Linked DNA regions of Homo sapiens: region 1 is linked to region 2. Evidence: fine-mapped expression QTL. Tissue or cell type: esophagus muscle. Region 2 holds a variant in brackets; the other region holds the start of a gene. All regions are shown on one strand. Distances are from middle to middle.

The links. PIP is the estimated chance that this variant, and not a neighbour inherited with it, causes the effect.
Region 1: it holds the start of SMIM38, and the variant in region 2 is fine-mapped to the expression of SMIM38 in esophagus muscle (GTEx, PIP above 0.99).

The regions. Positions count from the first base shown.
Region 1 is chr11:69,152,585-69,160,687 of GRCh38, reverse strand. It overlaps SMIM38 (small integral membrane protein 38), which reads right to left and starts at 4,753. Exons shown (of 3, transcript NM_001369201.2): 1 at 4,574-4,753; 2 at 1,337-3,514; 3 at 1-1,242. The coding sequence starts at 2,841. The coding sequence ends at 2,686. All of the region lies in intron 2 of LOC338694 (a long non-coding RNA gene), which reads left to right. RefSeq lists silencers at 3,028-3,387, 6,633-6,927 and an enhancer at 4,272-5,199.
Region 2 is chr11:69,100,870-69,108,972 of GRCh38, reverse strand. No RefSeq gene overlaps it. Among named protein-coding and RNA genes, the nearest start is that of MIR3164, 22 kb to the right of the region's middle. RefSeq lists an enhancer at 6,328-6,828. The variant C/G (reference allele first, on the strand shown) is at 4,626.

The DNA.
Region 1 (8,103 bases), 52 kb before region 2:
TAAGAAAAAGAAAAGAAATTATGGACCAGTGTAACTGAGATAGGGAGTCGGAGGAGGTTGGCAGAATCTTCCCTTCCACCATTTTTCCAGGTGGCTGTGTTCTCATGGGGCCGCCTTGAGCGTCTGTCCTCCCTGCCAGGCAGTCCCAGTAGAGGAGTCTGTTCTGACCCCTGGCTCCAGCAGAAGTCCCAGGATTCTGAGGCCGGGCATGGTAGCTCATGCCTGTAACCCCAGCATTTCGGGAGGCCAAGGCAGGCAGATCACTTGAGGTCAGGAGTTCAAGACCAGCCTGGCCAATATAGTGAAACACCATCTCTACTAAAAAATACAAAAATCAGCAGGGCGTGGTGGCACACGCCTATAATCCCAGCTACTCGGGAGGCTGAGGCAGGAGAATTGCTTGAGCCCCAGAGGCGGAGGTTGCAGTGAGCCAAGATTGCGCCACTGCCCTCCAGCCTGGGTGACAGAGTGAGATTCCATCTCAAAAAAAAAAAAAAAAAAGATGATGAAGTCCCAGGATTCTGGCTCACTGGACCAAGAGGTGACCTCAGGTATGTGTGTAGGTGCCATCCTACACACCCATGTGGACACGCAGGCCACACACAGGTTTACACAAAACTCTACAACTGGCAAGACATCGGCACATCATATGAATGTCTAACTCCTTCTATCCAGCGTGACCTGGTTTGCCCAGGACTGAGGGGTTTTCCAGGACATCGAACTTTCCATTTTAAAAACAAGACAGCCCTGGGCAACCCGGAACAGCTGGCCCTCCTAGCTCTGTCGGTACATGCTCATGACAACCATGTGATTTTTCTTCCTTAAAGAGATCAATGAAATGGTACCAGATCATGTTTTTAAAAAGCGAACAATATTTTCCTTAGAGATCAATGAGAATATCCCTCCCCACAATCCTACGATCAGGCGAGAATATTCAGGCAGAGCCCTGGGCTGCCGGTGGAGGTGGCAAATTGTCCGTGACACGGGGGAGTGACCATAGAGTTCTGCTGGCCTCTGGCTGATACAACAGAGGCCAAACTGAAATGGAGCACGGTAGCCCCTGCCCCTGTGCAGACTTCAGAGCGTGAATGAGAAGGGACCCTCTGCAATAGGTCATCTTCACGTCACCCCCTGGACACCTCAAACTCTTGGTCGGTCCCACCCCAGATGGTCTCGGCTCCTGCTCACCAGCACCCCCGTGTCTGTAGCTCTCTTGAATGGAGGATCTGAGCACAGCAAGTCCTGTAGAAACCAAAAAAAAAAAAAAAATTTCCTTGGCATAGGTGAGTGTATCGGGTGCCGCAGAAACAGTGATAACAGCGTTTCTGGTCCTCACCTGGGTTCATTCAGCCAGGACACAGCAAGGCAGAGGCTCCCAGCCAGTGCCCCACTCCATGCCCACCCTGGGGGTCCACTCGTCCCAGTCAGCAACACCAGCCCTGGAACCACCATCTAAGCTCCTGCTCTTGCTGGACGCCCCCAAGTCCTTTCAGAATTCACAGGAATCACCCCCTCTGCGAGCTTCGTGTTCAGAGGACTTGGCCCACGTTCCCTGAGCGAGCATCCCTAGCATACCCATCACCTCTCAGGGAGCAAGACGTTGCCACATCACCAGGCCCAGCCTCCCAGAGACGATATCTGGTTCGATGCTCCTCCCTGGAGCTGCCGCCCACAGTCCCTTCCATCTCACAGTTCCGCATGCAGTCAGCAGCCCTCGCTGCAATCCACGATCTGCTGGAACGATCCCAGGAAATACAGTGTGGAACTTGGACATGGGTGTTTGCCGAATTTCCCCCAAGAGGCTCGAATGTGGAGCCTTTGAGCTTCCCCAAGCTGTGGGTTAAGTCACTGGCATCACGGCTAACGTGCTACGGAGGTGGAGCAGGAGCACTGGATGCTTGGCCTCAAATCAACTTCCCTGCCCTGTCAGCCTTCCTGGGCACTTCCCAGCCACACACTTGCAGGAACAGATGAACAGAGGGCATTGATGGGTGCCTTGGCTTGTCCCCTAAATTGTCCCCTACATGATATCCTGCTGAGGGAGGGAGGCAGGGATCATTGTGCCCTAACTGTTCAGACCGTTAGAGAGTGTGCAGAGGGTCAACCAGAGCCAAGTGCGTCTGGCTTGTCAACTCAGCCTCACAAGTGCGTCCTGAGACCCTTCCCAGGGGTCTGCTCTGGAGAAATCAGGACAGCCATCGGCACTTATCTCGTCCCTTGGGAGGCAGGAGGAGACTAGTTATGAGGGTGGTGAGCTGAGACAGGACGTGGCCTTTGGTAACAGGGCCAGCTTGTGATGAGGTCACATTTGTCTCTGTGGCACCTCCACCTGAGTCCTCTGGCTTACCCAGCTCTTCCTGCAGGCATATTTATAAGGAATTGGAGGCAGAGAAGGTCTTAAAGCAAGACCCACCCCCAGGACCACTCCCTGCAACCGGGGACCCCAGAACCTGGTGATGGACCTGCAAGGCCGGCCCCTCCATCTCCCCACATGGCCAGCTGCCTCTACGGGACAGCCCTGGTCAGTCTGGGAAGGCACGATCCATCTCAGGCCTCTCTGAGCTCCTGCCCCAGGGGTGGGACATGGGGATCATGCGCCTGCCCTGCTCCCCTCCCTCCCACCACCACTGGAAGGGCCGGCTGAGTCTCGGGACAGGGCGCGTGGAGGCCGCAGCCTGCAGAGGCTTAGTCCTGCTTGGGTTTCTGGGGCCGCCGCTGGGCCAGTCTGTAGTCGATGTAGGTCCCGAGGCAGGACCACAGGATGAGGCGTGCTAGCAGGATCACCACCAGCAGGGCCAGGAGCGGGTCAGGGCCAAAGCTGCCACCTGGCCAGGAGGTCATGCCTGAAGTCAGCCCCAAAGGGCAGCAGCAGCCTCTGCCCTGGAACCGAGATGCAGTGGGGCCCTGCCACCCTAGCCCGGCACTGCCAAGTGGCTGCTGTGCAGACCCAGGACAGGAAGCTCCGTCCAGCCTGGGGCCTCTGCAGCCGGCGCCCCCAAGGGACCGCCCTGTTCTCTCTGGTGCCACCAAGCAGGCCAGATCTGCCCGCCAGACTCCAGCCCGGGGCCTCCCTGGCATGTGAGAGGACAGACTGGGGACGACGAGCAGCCTCCTTGGTCAAGAGGCCCGTGTACCATTCATCCAGAATTAACCACTCTCCGTGCTGACAATGACAGCATTGTCCAGGGGCCTGGGGGGCGGGAGGCCGCCGGGAGCCCGCCCCCCTCGCTGTCCCCGCGCCCCCTGCTCGCCAGCGCTGACGTAATCTGCAAACATCCCCGGCGGCAGCTGCTGGGCGAAGCGGCCACCTCCTCCCGACGCTTTCAGCAGCCCACGCGGCTCTTCCGGCCCCGCCAGACAATTGGGCCCTTTCTCTCCCCAATTAGCTATCACTTCTGGAGGCCGCGCCGTCCAGCGCCGGCCCACGGTCTCCGCAGCAGCAGGCCCGGGATGGGGCGGGGGCCGGGAAGCTTGGCAGGGAGGCTGGGGCCACCACGGGGAAGAAGGACGGAGCCTGAGGATGAAAAGCCAAGGAGAAAAGGGGAGAAGATGAGGACAGGCGGCCACAGCCCACAGGCGGCCCCAAACACAGCTCAGCAGCACAAGGACCGCGCTCTGGGCCTCTGATGGCAAGGGGGTCAGCGCGGGAAACCGGCTTCATCCCCCAGGAAGGGGACCGGTGGACCCCCAGCAGCACCTCCCTCCAGCTCGCCCCTCCAACCTCCATCAAGAAGCCTTAGGTGGGACCTGTAGCCCTAAGCTGGGGCGCACAGGCCTGCAGGGTCCCCTGACATCCTCACAGTCACCCTGGACCGGAGGCCAGTCCTGCCTTCTACTAGCTGAGTGACCTCGGGCAAGTTGTGCAACCTCTCAGAGCCGCAGATCCTGCCTTAGAAAGTGAAGCAAATACCTCCTGCTTTGAAGGATTAGGGGAGAGAGCACTTCTCAGGGGCCACGCCCAGCGCCTGGGCACAGAGATCCTGGCCCCTGCCTCTCAGTGGATGCCTTCAGAAAGGCCTCCACATCTTTTCTGAAATAACAGTGTCTGCCCAGCCTTCTCTGACTGCCACACGCGCGCACACACACACACACACACGCATACACATGTATACATGTGTGTGCACACAGACTCACACGTGTGCACACCCAATAAGGACACATTGACCTCTACAGGCTCTGCCCCCCAAGTCCAGCTCTGGCCTCTCACAGCCGAGTTTCTGTGAGTGAGAGATAAACCGCCAGAACTGCCCCCTCTAACTCCAAGCCTACATCCTGTAAAGCAAAGGGGCCCCAGTTGGAGCTAGGGGGCTGAGCGTGAGGAACAGAGGTCTCTGGCGGCTGGGTCCTGGGAGTCCGGCCAGTTCTCACCAGCAAATGTCCAGCCTGAGCTACAGAGAACAGCAATGGGGGCCTTCCTGGCCACAGGGATCTGGGGCCCATCGCTGGTCGCCGGAAGCCAGCTCTTCAGTTCCTTCCCAGTCTACAAAATGAGTGTCCTCCCTGCCAAGCCTTTCCAGAAGGTTCAAACGGGACCACACGTTCAAACGGGAAGTGGAGCATGATGCCAACTCACCTTGGGCCGGGCACCGCCTAAGCTGCCTTCCCGCAGCCACCCTGGAGCCCCTGCCTGGACTGGCAGAGGCTGTCTGGGAAGCATGCCTGGCCCTTCCTCCATCTGTGGTGTGCCCTGCACCCACTGGGCTGCCTGGCACTGCTGTCAAAGGCCACTCACTTAGGGAACGTTGAGCTCTGGGCTTGTTTTCCACGCGCAGCGGTTTGAAGATCACTTCGAACGTGGGTGGGGAGTTAGCTCTCTGGACCCCGTCATAGAGTAAGTCATCGATAGAGCATTTGCTTGATGGGGACTTCCAGAAGGCCAGGGAAAGTCCTGCCGACTTCCTGGGGAAGCCCATCCGCACGTGGGGTGAGGGTCCCCAGATGGGAGCAGCTGTGTATGCAGGGAGGGGGCAGAGGCTGCTGCCAATGGGCATGTCCCTTACCTGAAAGGGCCACCTCTCCAGGTGACATGTCCTGGGGGAGCCGGGGCCGTCTGCTCCGGCCAGAGGCGCTCAGCTCAGGCCACACCAGGCAGGGCACCTCCCAACCTGGACAGGTGGGGACCAAGGTGGCCTTGGACAAAACTCTCTGTGTTTGCCAAGCACCCAATCGGACACAGAGAGTCAACCACACCCCAGTCACATGGTGTCCACACGCAGGGGTCAAGGAGGCCCGGCCCCTCCCCCTCAGACGTCCCTGGGCCTCTGGGAGTCAGCAAGGACGAGGACGGCATGCCCTTCGAGACAGGAAGGGAGTGACCTCCTCCCAGCGGCATCCAGGCTCGGCTTCTCCGGAGAGGAGAGGGGGCTACTTGCTGGATAAAGCGGCCGGGGCCACAGAGAAAAAGCAAGTGACCATGAGCACGTTGCAGACACAGTGCACCGACAGCATTGCAGCACGGGGACTGTGAGACCTCCCATTCTCGGGGGAAACTCCCCAAGTCCCCCCACCATCAGCAGTGATGTGACTGGGGCGGCGACCTGTGCTGGGAGCCTCCACCAGCTCCTGCGCCTCAGGCCCTGCTGCCCTGCACCTTCGCTTCCAGTAGGACCCTTCTCCAGGGCATTCTGGGCCACAGGAGCCACCCCAGTGCACAGAGACCCGAAGGCCCAGGAAGTTCCCTCCCCCAGGCAGCCCTTAACCTAAGGCTGACCTGGGCAGGACGTAGCCCAGCTTCCCTGCTTTGGACCAGGACAAACTAGAGGCCACTCTGAACCCCCAGAGCTCCCCCTGAAAATCCCAGGGACGTGCGGCTGTGCCTGGAGTCGCCCCCTTCCCAGACTGCTCCCCTTCATCTTGCCCTCCCTGCTCCTCCCTCCTGTGTCTCCCCATCACACCACCCCCCGAGTTACCCGCCTGTGAATATAATCCAGGATAAGAGTGACGAGCGCCTCATCAGCGCAGACCCAGACCCCGCCAATGGGAACGCATGGAGCTGGGCGGTGGTGGCTCCCAGCCCCGGGCCTCTGAGGATGGATCCGGGGATGCTCCCAGCCCCGGGCCTCTGAGGATGGATCCGGGGATGCTCCCAGCCCCGGGCCTCTGAGGATGGATCTGGGGATGCAAGTTGCCATCGGGACCTCAAAGAGCCAAGGCATCTTCCTGCACCCAAATGTTCAACGCTGACAGAGCAGTGAGTGACGCACCCTCACTCACTGTTTCCTGATGAAATGCTTGGCAGAGGAAACCTCTCCACAGGTGAGCTCCGTGGGGAAGGCCTGGAGTGGAAGTAACAAGGAGGTGCAAGTTCTTGCCCCCAAAGCCTGGTCCCCGCCCAGGACCAGCCCTCAGTACAGGTGACAGCCTGGGACAGAGCCCCAAGAACCTTGTGAACAGCTTCCTGTGAGCCCCAGGCAAGCTGGTCTCCACTGAAGCATCACTGGGCCTCAGTTTCCTCCCCTCAATAAAAGGGGAAAATAATCCTAGCACTTTGGGAGGCCGACGTGAGAAGGTTCAGGAGTTCGAGGCCAACCTGGGCAACATGACAAAACCCCATCTCTACAAAAAAAAAAAAAATACAAAAATTAGCTGGATGTGGTGGTGCACACTCGTTGTCCCACCTAGCTAGGAGGCTGAGGCAGGAGGATCACTTGAACCTGGGAGGCAGAGGTTGCAGTGAGCCATGATCAAGCTACTGTACTCCAGCCTGGGCAACACCTTATCTCAAAAAAAAAAAAAAAAAAAAAAAACGGTGAGGGGATGATAATCCCTTCCCAGCTTCTGCAAGCAAGGCTGGGGATAAGAGTGCTTTGCAGGGGAAATCCCCGCCCAAATGTCATCGAGATGAGCTGGACTTGGCTGACTCAAATGCAGGACCCAGGAATAATACTGAACGCCCTCCCCCAGGGACCACCAGGCACATCCCCCAGGGCCTCAGTGTGTTGGTTGGTTTTGTTATTTTCATAGCACCAACATCCTCTGAACTCTTCCATGTGTTTCTAGAACTCGAGCTCTCGCCGAATCCCCCAGGACTTAGCACAGTTCCAGGCACCCAGAAGACTCTCAGCAAGGACGGCCACGTGCATTGGAGCTGGGAGGCCAAATTAAAAGAAGCACGTGTTTTCCTTAGAACAGATTCCGCCAAAATTGTAAAACCACCACCTACAGCCTTGTTGACAGTGAGACATTCTCAGACATGTCAGGGTCCTGTTGAAAATCATTTTTTTCTTTGTTTCTTTTTGCAACAGCAAAATATGCTTGCTTTAACCAAAAAAAAAAAAAAAAGCAACCATGGCAGAGATGGGTGAGTTGGGAGAGCATGAACATCATCAACTCTTACTCCTGCCAAGACGGAGCACAGGACATGAGGACCCCGTCCAGGGCCCACGGGGAGCCTGAGTTCCCACCCCACGAAGGCCTGTGGCCCATCACCTCTTCCCCTGAGAATGCTGCATCTCAAAACCCCAGCCGGCGCAGGCTGCCGAAATCAACAGAACATGCATTTCAAACCGGGTTTCCACTGAAATGCTCCCTACACACAGACGGGCGAAAATTAATTTTCTTTCTTCCTGCGCCACAAAAGCAGATTAAAATCACGAACAGTGGGACGAGTGGGGGGAAGTGGAGGGCTTCCTCATTGAGGGAGACCCCTGCCCGGGAGGTTTCTCTCCCTAACAAGGGATGGCCTCAGCCGTTTGAAACGCCCTGCTGCAGGCATAAAGCCCGACCCAGGAGAAGGCACTTGAGAAAAAGGACGCCGCTGCCCTCCCAACGGTTGAAAGCTGGTATGTAACTTTGCTCGGGGTGATCAAACAGCTAGTCAAGGACGCTGTCAGGAACAGAATGAAATTCCAAATAAATTAGCCATGTCCAGAAGCCAATACAACACCGGATTAAGGCTCACAAAGAAAACACAATTTATTCAGCCTACCTTGTCAGAATTCTTAATAACCCCCCTTCCTTTCCCTCACCTCAGGCTGAGAGTCCCTGGGTGTGAAGAGACAAAGTGAACCCCACTCGGGACGCTGGGCGTCTGGTGTAGACGCTGGGCATCCAGTAGATGCGCTGGATGTCTGGTGGAGCATAAGCGTTTACAAAATCGTGTTT
Region 2 (8,103 bases):
AACAAATGTGTAATTAGCCAATAAATAAGTTAATAAGTGATCAATAAATGCATGATCATAGACTGTGGTGGGGCTCCCAAAGGGGCAGGGGCAGGTGCTTGGATGGGCACCAAGGAGCTCCTCCCCCAGGGAGTGGGTCTGAGACCTGAAAGGCGTGTGAGAATGAGAAAAGCGTGTCGGCAGAACAAATGTGTACAAGTCTCCTGCAGCTGCTGTAACAAACCATCCCAAACTGGGTGGCTCAGAACAACACAGACTTATTTTCTCAGTTCTGGGGACCCGAAGCCCAAGACCCAGGTGTCAGCAAGGCCGCCCTCCCTCTGAAAGTGCTAGAGGAGGGTCCTTCCTGACACTTCCAGCTCCTGGGGGCTCCAGGTGTTCCTTGACTGTGGCCACATCACTCCAGTCTCTGCCTCTGTCTTCGTGCATCCTCCTCCTCCTCTCCGTGTCTTCACCTCTTCTCTCATGAGACACCTGGCATTGGATTTTGAGCCCACACAGATAATCCAGGATGATCTCATCCCTTACCTTAATTTCACCTGCAAAGACCCTTCTTTCCAAAAAGGTCACACCCACAGGTTCTAGGTTAGGATTTGGACATACGTTAAGGGGGTCATCATTCAGCCCAATCCAAACATCCTGGACAAAGGCCCTGAGGCTGGGAGGTGTAGTGCTGGCCAGTGACATGGCAGGGGTGGCAGGCTCACAGTGGGCAGGGGCTCGTGCACGCAGGCTGGGGACCAGGGTGGAGGGCTGTGGACGGCCATGGCTGAGTTTCACAACGGGGAGGGACATGATCCAATAGCTGCTGCGGGTGCAAAGACAGAGCAGAGAAGTCAGCAGTGGAGAAACAGGTGGACCATCAGGGACCACTATAGTCCTCCAGGTGTGTTGGATGGCGGGGCTGGGACAGGGGAGAGGGAATGAGGAGAGGCAGACCAAAAATGTGCTTGGAGGTTCAAATGGACTTTGTTGATGACTGCAATGGGGTGGGGTGGGAGCATCAACACCGAGCCCAGGACACGGGCATGAGCAGGTGGGTCACAGAGGCTTCTCCCAAGATGAGGAGGAGGGTGTGACCAGGTGTGATACTCTGGACAATCCTGAGGTGTGATACTCTGGACAACCCTGGGGTGTGGGGGCCCCATCTCACAGAGCTGGGATAAGAGGAGGCTGAAGCAACATTCAGGTGGGGCTGTGCCTGCATTCACTGTGGCATCCAAGGCAGTATGGTAGTCAGCAAACCCTGGTGCTCAGCAAACCCAGGTGCTTAGCAAACCCCACTGCTGAGAAAATCCTGGTGCTCAGCAAAACCCAGGTGCTTAGCAAACCCCACTGCTTAGAAAATCCTGGTGCTCAGCAAACCCTGGTGCTCAGCAAACCCCAGTGCTCAGCAAACCCTGGTGCTTAGCAAAACCCAGGTGCTTAGCAAACCCCACTGCTCAGAAAATCCTGGTGCTCAGCAAACCCTCACAGCATAGTCCCTGGATGGCAGAGCCTTTCTCAGTGTTTCTGGCATGAATACTGCATTCCAGGCCATGGGGTTTGCACTGTGAGAGACCCGTGGACCTGCCCCAGGTAAGCTCTTAGTGCAGCAGCCACTGGTCCTCTCCCAGCAGCACGGGCTGGGCCACTCCTGCCATGCCAGGTTTCAGCCTCCCCAACACCAGGGGACCTGATGCTAAGTTCTCCACAGGCCCTTCCCACTTTAAAGTTCTCCAGCTCCCAAAAAATCAGGGACTTTCCAATTTAGAAAATACCCTCACTGGATGGCCCTACCCATCCAGCCATTAGCTTCTCAAGCAGGCCAGGCAGTCCCTGGGCTGCCCACCTCTCCGCAGGCATCAGCCCCAGCACCACCTCTTGGATATGGAGCAGACACAGCATTGCCCACTGCCCTGGGCCCTCCTTACTCCTTCTCTGTCTGGACCAGTTCTTCCTCTTCCCTCCCCACATCCTGTTGCAACCATTCATGCTCAGGGATCCTCCTCTCCCCAGAAGCTGTGGCCTCTGAAAACCCCAAACTCTGCCATTTGCTGTCCCACCTGCCTTTCTGTGGCTGGGCCCCCACACAGCCAGATACAGATGCTGTCCCCTGCCCTGGTCACTCAGCAGGTGAGGGCTGGGCCCTGGGAGCCTGGCCTCTGGGTAGCCCTGAGTGGGAAGATGGTGGAGGGAGGCCTGTCCCCACTGGAGCAGTTCACCAAGGACAGGAGGCTGGGACAAGCTCCCTCCGTCCCCTGCCCACGGGCTCAGAGAATCACCCAGAGGCACCTTCCCACAGCGCCTCACTGGGCAGCCGGGCCTGGGAGCCAGGGCCAGCAGGCCTCAGGGGACCTGGAAAGTTTGGTTTTGCTTTGTGGATCTGGACAAACTGGAAATGTAAAGGGCTGCACTGGACGTACCCAGCTGGGCAAACTGGAAGTGCTTCAAAGAGCTGGGGGCAGGGCCGGGCGGCCGGTTCACACGGCTACGGCCAAGCTCAGCCCATCACTCAGGCCACCTGCCGGAGCCCATGCACCACCTCGCTGCTGCCCCTCCCCACTGCCAGTGGTCATGGACCCTGCCCACAGAGCCCCTCGGCAGCAGGGAGCTCCGGGCCAGCCAAGCGCAGGCCTCCTCCTCCATGATATTAATCAATCACATCCTGATAGTGATCAATGGAGGGCCCCTGGCAGCAATGGGCTGGCCAGCCTCCAGGCTCACCGTCCAGAGGCAGGAACGCCGAGGATGGCAAATGTGATCTTTGGCAAGGGACAGCACATTGTCTTACCGCTGTGGGAAAATGCTTAATGCGCAAACATTTCCTTAAAACGAGCTGACAAGGAAACGTTCAAGATGGCCTTATTAAAGATAATCATCCTGGCTGAACAGGACAAAAATAGATTAAGTCCCTTCTGAACTCTGAGAGCAGGATACGTGGCCCAGCAGAGCATCACTAAACCAAGGCGGGTGGCAGCGGGGAAAGACTCCACGGCTTTCCCTTGGGTTTCACCACTTGGAGAAGCTTCCCAGTCGGCTGGCGTGGAAGCCCAGCTCCTCACCCCACCCCAAGCACAGGGCAGGCGCTGAGCCCCGGGCTGGCAGAGGTAGGGAGTGGGCTGCAGGCACGGGGCGGGGAGGGGGCCTCCGGAGCTGCACACAGGAATGTCAGGGCCTGGCTTAATTTCTAAACCTGCCATATGGCCCTGCGTCCTGGGACCCAGGCTGGTGGCCAAGGAGGAGCCCTGGGGCTCGGTCCACAGCCCTCCAGGCCGGCTGCACAAAGCCATTTTTCAAAGGTGTTTCCCAACAGTCTCTCTCAAAGGAACTGCCCTTTGAGAAGCTGTCTTGGGCTCGAGCCAGGCAGGGCTGTCTGGGGGCTCTTGGCAAACGTGCCAGCCGTCCCCAGATCAAAAGTGCCTTTCTTGGTTTGCTCACTGCCTCTCTGTGCCAGGTGAATGAGCTGTGGGGGCACCCCGGGCCGGGCAAGGCCAGAGTTGTCTTACCCAGACTCAAAGATGGGGGTGGGGGCTGACCACAGGTGCGGTGTGCCCCACCAATCCATGGAAACCCCAACCCACGGGGCAATGGCTCACGTTACAAAAGATCCATGGAGGGGCCCCTTCAAACCGAAGCTCCCCAAGGACGTGGCACTGTTGCTCAGGGATCATTCGCCATGTGACACAGAGAGGCCCAGACCAAGGAAATGTAAGGCCAGAGGGCTCACAGGCCCTGCCAGCTGACGTGGCCTCAGTCTAGACAGAGAGACAGGCAAAGTGGGCACGACGGGGGTCTGTGAAACCAACCCAACCTTCATTCACCCACCACGGGACCCTCCCTTCTGGGCAGAGACAGGTGCTTTCGACCCAGCAGGTGGGCGCTGACAGCTCCACTGCCACACAAGCCCCTGGCATCTTCTCGCTGCAGACACACTTGGTGGCAAGTGCTTGCGTGTGGACGCTGCGTGGCCCGATGTCCCATCGGTCAGTGTCCAAGAGGAAGGCTCTGGGATGCCGCTTACTCAGAGAGCCCTGCACGCACCACTCCCAGCTTCACCTGTGCTGCCAGGCTGGGACCAAGTCCACCTTGGAGATGTGGCTGGCAACTGTCATCGCTACCAGGTCCATCTCGCCGCCACTCACTCCCCACCGCCCTCCAATAATGCCAACAAAACTCACAGTGGAGCCAGGGTCTCGGGGGAAAGAAGAAAGATCTGCAAGAGCCTCCCCGACCATCTCCAGATGCCTGAGCCCCAGAGCTGACTTGCACGGAGGCTGATCTGCATCGAAGGCTGGCCCCGGGCCAGGCACCTGGGAGGGCTTTGGGCCCATCTCCCACCTGTCCTCGCCTTAAGCCAACAGGGCAGGAACTGTGGTTATTCCCGTTCTGCAGATGAGGCACCCAAGGCACAAGGAGTCTGTGCAGCCAGCGGGTGGAGGAGAAGCTGGGGCCACCCCCGGAACATTTCTGAGGACACCATTCCTGGCCCTGTACAAACCGACTCTGTCATCTCCATTCGCTACAGAGAACCAGCAACTGATGCCAGTGCAGTGCAGAGAAATAACGGGCCCATTTTACAGATGTGGAAACTAAAGTTCAGGCAGGTCCAATAATTTGCCCAAACACCAAACAGCTGCAAATGG[C/G]AAGGCTGGGATCAGAAGGAAGACTGGATGCTAGAGCCTCCCTGGCCCCCATCCCTTCATTCCTGATACCTGCACCCCACTCTCTGGCCTTCACCCCTCCCAATGCCTAGCATGCGGCCATTCAAAGCAATGCTGGGTTCCGCCCCTCACCGTAAAAATCAAAAAGCTGCCTGCTCGTGAATGCTTGTGAGAGAGAAAACACCTGGAAAGGTAGAATCAGGTGCTCCTAAAATTCACATCCACTTGGAATCTCAGATGTGACTTTACTTGGAAATAGGGTTTCTGCAGATGTAATAAGTTGAGGTTATACTGGAGCAGGGAAGGCCCTGAATCCAATACAATCGGTGTCCTTATAAGTAGAGAGAAATGTGGACACAGACACACAGGGGAGAAGACACATGAAGGGGGAGACAGAGACTGGAACGATGCAGCCACAAGCCAAGGAACACCAGAGCCGCAAAAAGCCAGGAGCAGCAAGGAGGGACGCTTCCCTAGGGCCTTCAGAGGGTGCCCAGTCCTGCTGGCACCTGCACCTGGGACTTCTGGCCTCCAGAACTGCAACACAGCACATCTCCATGGTCTAAAGCCACTCAGGCTGTGGTACTTTGCACAGCAGCCCCAGAAAATCAGCACAGCACCCAGCACCCTGCATCTGGGGGTCAGCTCCCACCTGTTCCTACCACATTATTGGCCAACTGAGGATGGGAGTTGAATTTTGTTCTGGAACAAATAATAATAATAAATGCCAGAACTCGCCACCCCTGTGCTCGGGTCCCCACAGCCTGGAAGTGTGGCCTCTCTGGAAAGCATTCCTGCTTGCCCCAGCCAAGTGGGTGGCCCCTCTGTAACCTCTACCAGATTCACTTTTCCCCCATGTCTCCCGTCCAGCCCGGAGTCCGCCTCCCGGGGCCACTGCCCCCATGCAGGATGGAGCAGAGCTCGCCATCCTGCCTGCCCCATGGTCATGTGGAGTCGCTGCCTTTCAGTTATACGGCAGGACTACTTGCCAGGTGGAAAGTGGGACCATCGGCCCTGGCGCCGCCAAACACATTCTTGGCAACTGAAACAAATGCCAGAGGTAGATGAGCCAGGCAAGACTGCCTCCCAGAGGGGGCACACTGCCGGGCCTGCGAACCCTTCATCAAACCCCAAGGAGCCGGTGAACGTTTGATGAGGGTCCTGGGGTCTCAGGCCCTTCTGCCTGGGCCAGTCTCATGTCCCGCTCGAGTGACGTGGGTCAGCAGTTTCCCTCCAGCCCAGCCATGGCCATCGTTGCCCACCTGCCACCTCTCAAGGGAGGAGGGCCCCCACTCCTCCTTCCCAGCTCTACTGAGAGGTCTCCTTGCCTCCAGCCACAGAGCCCCTGATGCACCCCTTCCTCCTGGCCAGAGCACAGGCTGTGCACCGCCTGTCCCCACAGCTGAGCTAATACCGCCACCTTTGGGCACTCAGACTGAGGCAATATCCCCCACCCGTGTTCTCCTGTCTTCACTGGGTGACTTCTAACCTCAGACAGTTCCCAAAACAAATGCAATCCCTTTTGCCTGTCAGAGTGGCCAACACCACCCTGGTTTCTGGAGGCAGCCAGCCCAGGTGTACTCAGGGGCAGGCGTGTTCCAGGATGTTCTGAGCCCCAGCTCCCTCCTCTGTAAGTCAGAAGTGAGGATGCATGAGTATGCACAGCACACTTCCACACAGTGTTCCCGCTGTGGCCACCGACGGAGGTCCAGGGTCCCCCAGGCTCTGCTCTGATGCTGGCCCAGCACCCAGAGTTTTCCTTGACCATTTTTCCAGGGCTGTGCCAGAGGCTGGGTGGGCTATGCCAAGGAGAAAAAGCAGGGAGGGGGCGTGGGCAGAGCTGATGGACAGGCAGGGCACCCGGGGCCCAAGCCACTGCTGCACTCAAGGAACAGACATTGGGGTGACCTCAGCAATTGCCTGGATGTCTGGGCCTCAGTTTCCCCTCTCAGTCCTCCCTGCCCTGTCCACTTCCAGGAGAAGGGGCTGTGCAGTGCGGGGGGAAAGGTGGAGCTGTCCAACTTGGCCTCTGACAGCTCCCAACCTATTTCCCCTTCTGGGACTTTGGCCCTGTCTGCAAAGCGTGACCCCCCTCACCAGTGGCCCACTGCATCCCCAGACACAGAGCCTCTTTTCTTTGCCCCAGTGAAGGCTGAAAATGGCCTTTCCCTAAGCGCACTCACCAGCAAGGGGTGACTGCAAGAGCCTCCTGGAGACCCGGATTTCTGGGGAAATGAGGTGGAATGAGTCGCATACCCACAGAAGCGCAGGGTCTTTTGAGCACCTCACATGCCCGGGGGCACTGACGTGGCCCACCCGGGGAGAAGGGAGTCTGAGTGTCCCCACAGTGGCTGGCAGGTGGACAGACCCAGGGGATGCTCCAGCCCCACCCAGCGGGAACCCCACAGCCAGAGAGGGCCCCATCAGTACCCTGCACTCCAGGTGGCCGGCTGGCCTGGTGGTGGGAGCCAGCAGCCCACCTCATCACACCCTCTCCCCACTAAAAGCACGCTACCCTCTCTCCTGGCTAGAATCTAACAAGTGTTGGTTGTCACTGCCACCACACAGATTCCCCTAGGGTCTCTTAGGCAAGGGTTGTAAGGTTCCCAGCACAGGCCCAGGAAGGCTGCCAGGAGGAGGAGGAGCTCCTGCCAGGAGGGGACTCCCCCTGCCTTCCCAGGCCTGGTGCTGAGCGAGGCAAGGAGGGTACCAGGGCCTGGGCACTGGGTCGCCTGCCGCTAGGCTCTGCTGCCCTCCGCTGGCTTACCCAGGAACTGCGTGTGCCCAGGGCAGCATCTCCAGGTGTGTCTAGCCTGCCTACCTACTCTACCTGGCCATGCCTCTGGACATGCAGGGCCTCTGTCGCAGGCCCTCACCTGTATGCAAATTATGCTCTGAGGGCATCTTGTAGGTTACAAGCCTCCGGTACCCAGGCCCAGCTGGGACGGGCTCAGTCATGCCTGCCCTCATCTGCTAGGTCTACGATGCTCCTTCCCTGGTGCACACTGGGGGTGGCGATCGCTATTCAACACCATCTGGGGCTTCTTCAAAAGGTGATGACGTCACCCCTGAGACAAGGTGGGCATTGGGACCCAGCACCGATGTGGGACCCAGAGGTAGGAGGCTCGCAGCCCTGCCAGGAGCCCCCTCTGCTCACTTCCACCTCATCTCACACACCAGGAACCTGAGGCCAGTGGAGAAGGGGCCACAGTGCCTGTGCCCACAGAGCTGGGCTCATATCCAAGACTGTGTCCCCTCCAAGCCCAGCTCATCACTCTCTGCCCTGCCAGTGATTGACAAACCAGTGGACCAGCCAGCAGGCCTCCTCTGAGGTCTCCCAGACTGCCTGCTCCTGGAGCAATACCCAAGGTGACTGATGCCCCATGCGGCTGGAGCACTCCCCACTTGGGCAGGCAGCTTTGCACCAGCACCACCCCACCATGCCTGTCCCATGGACCCC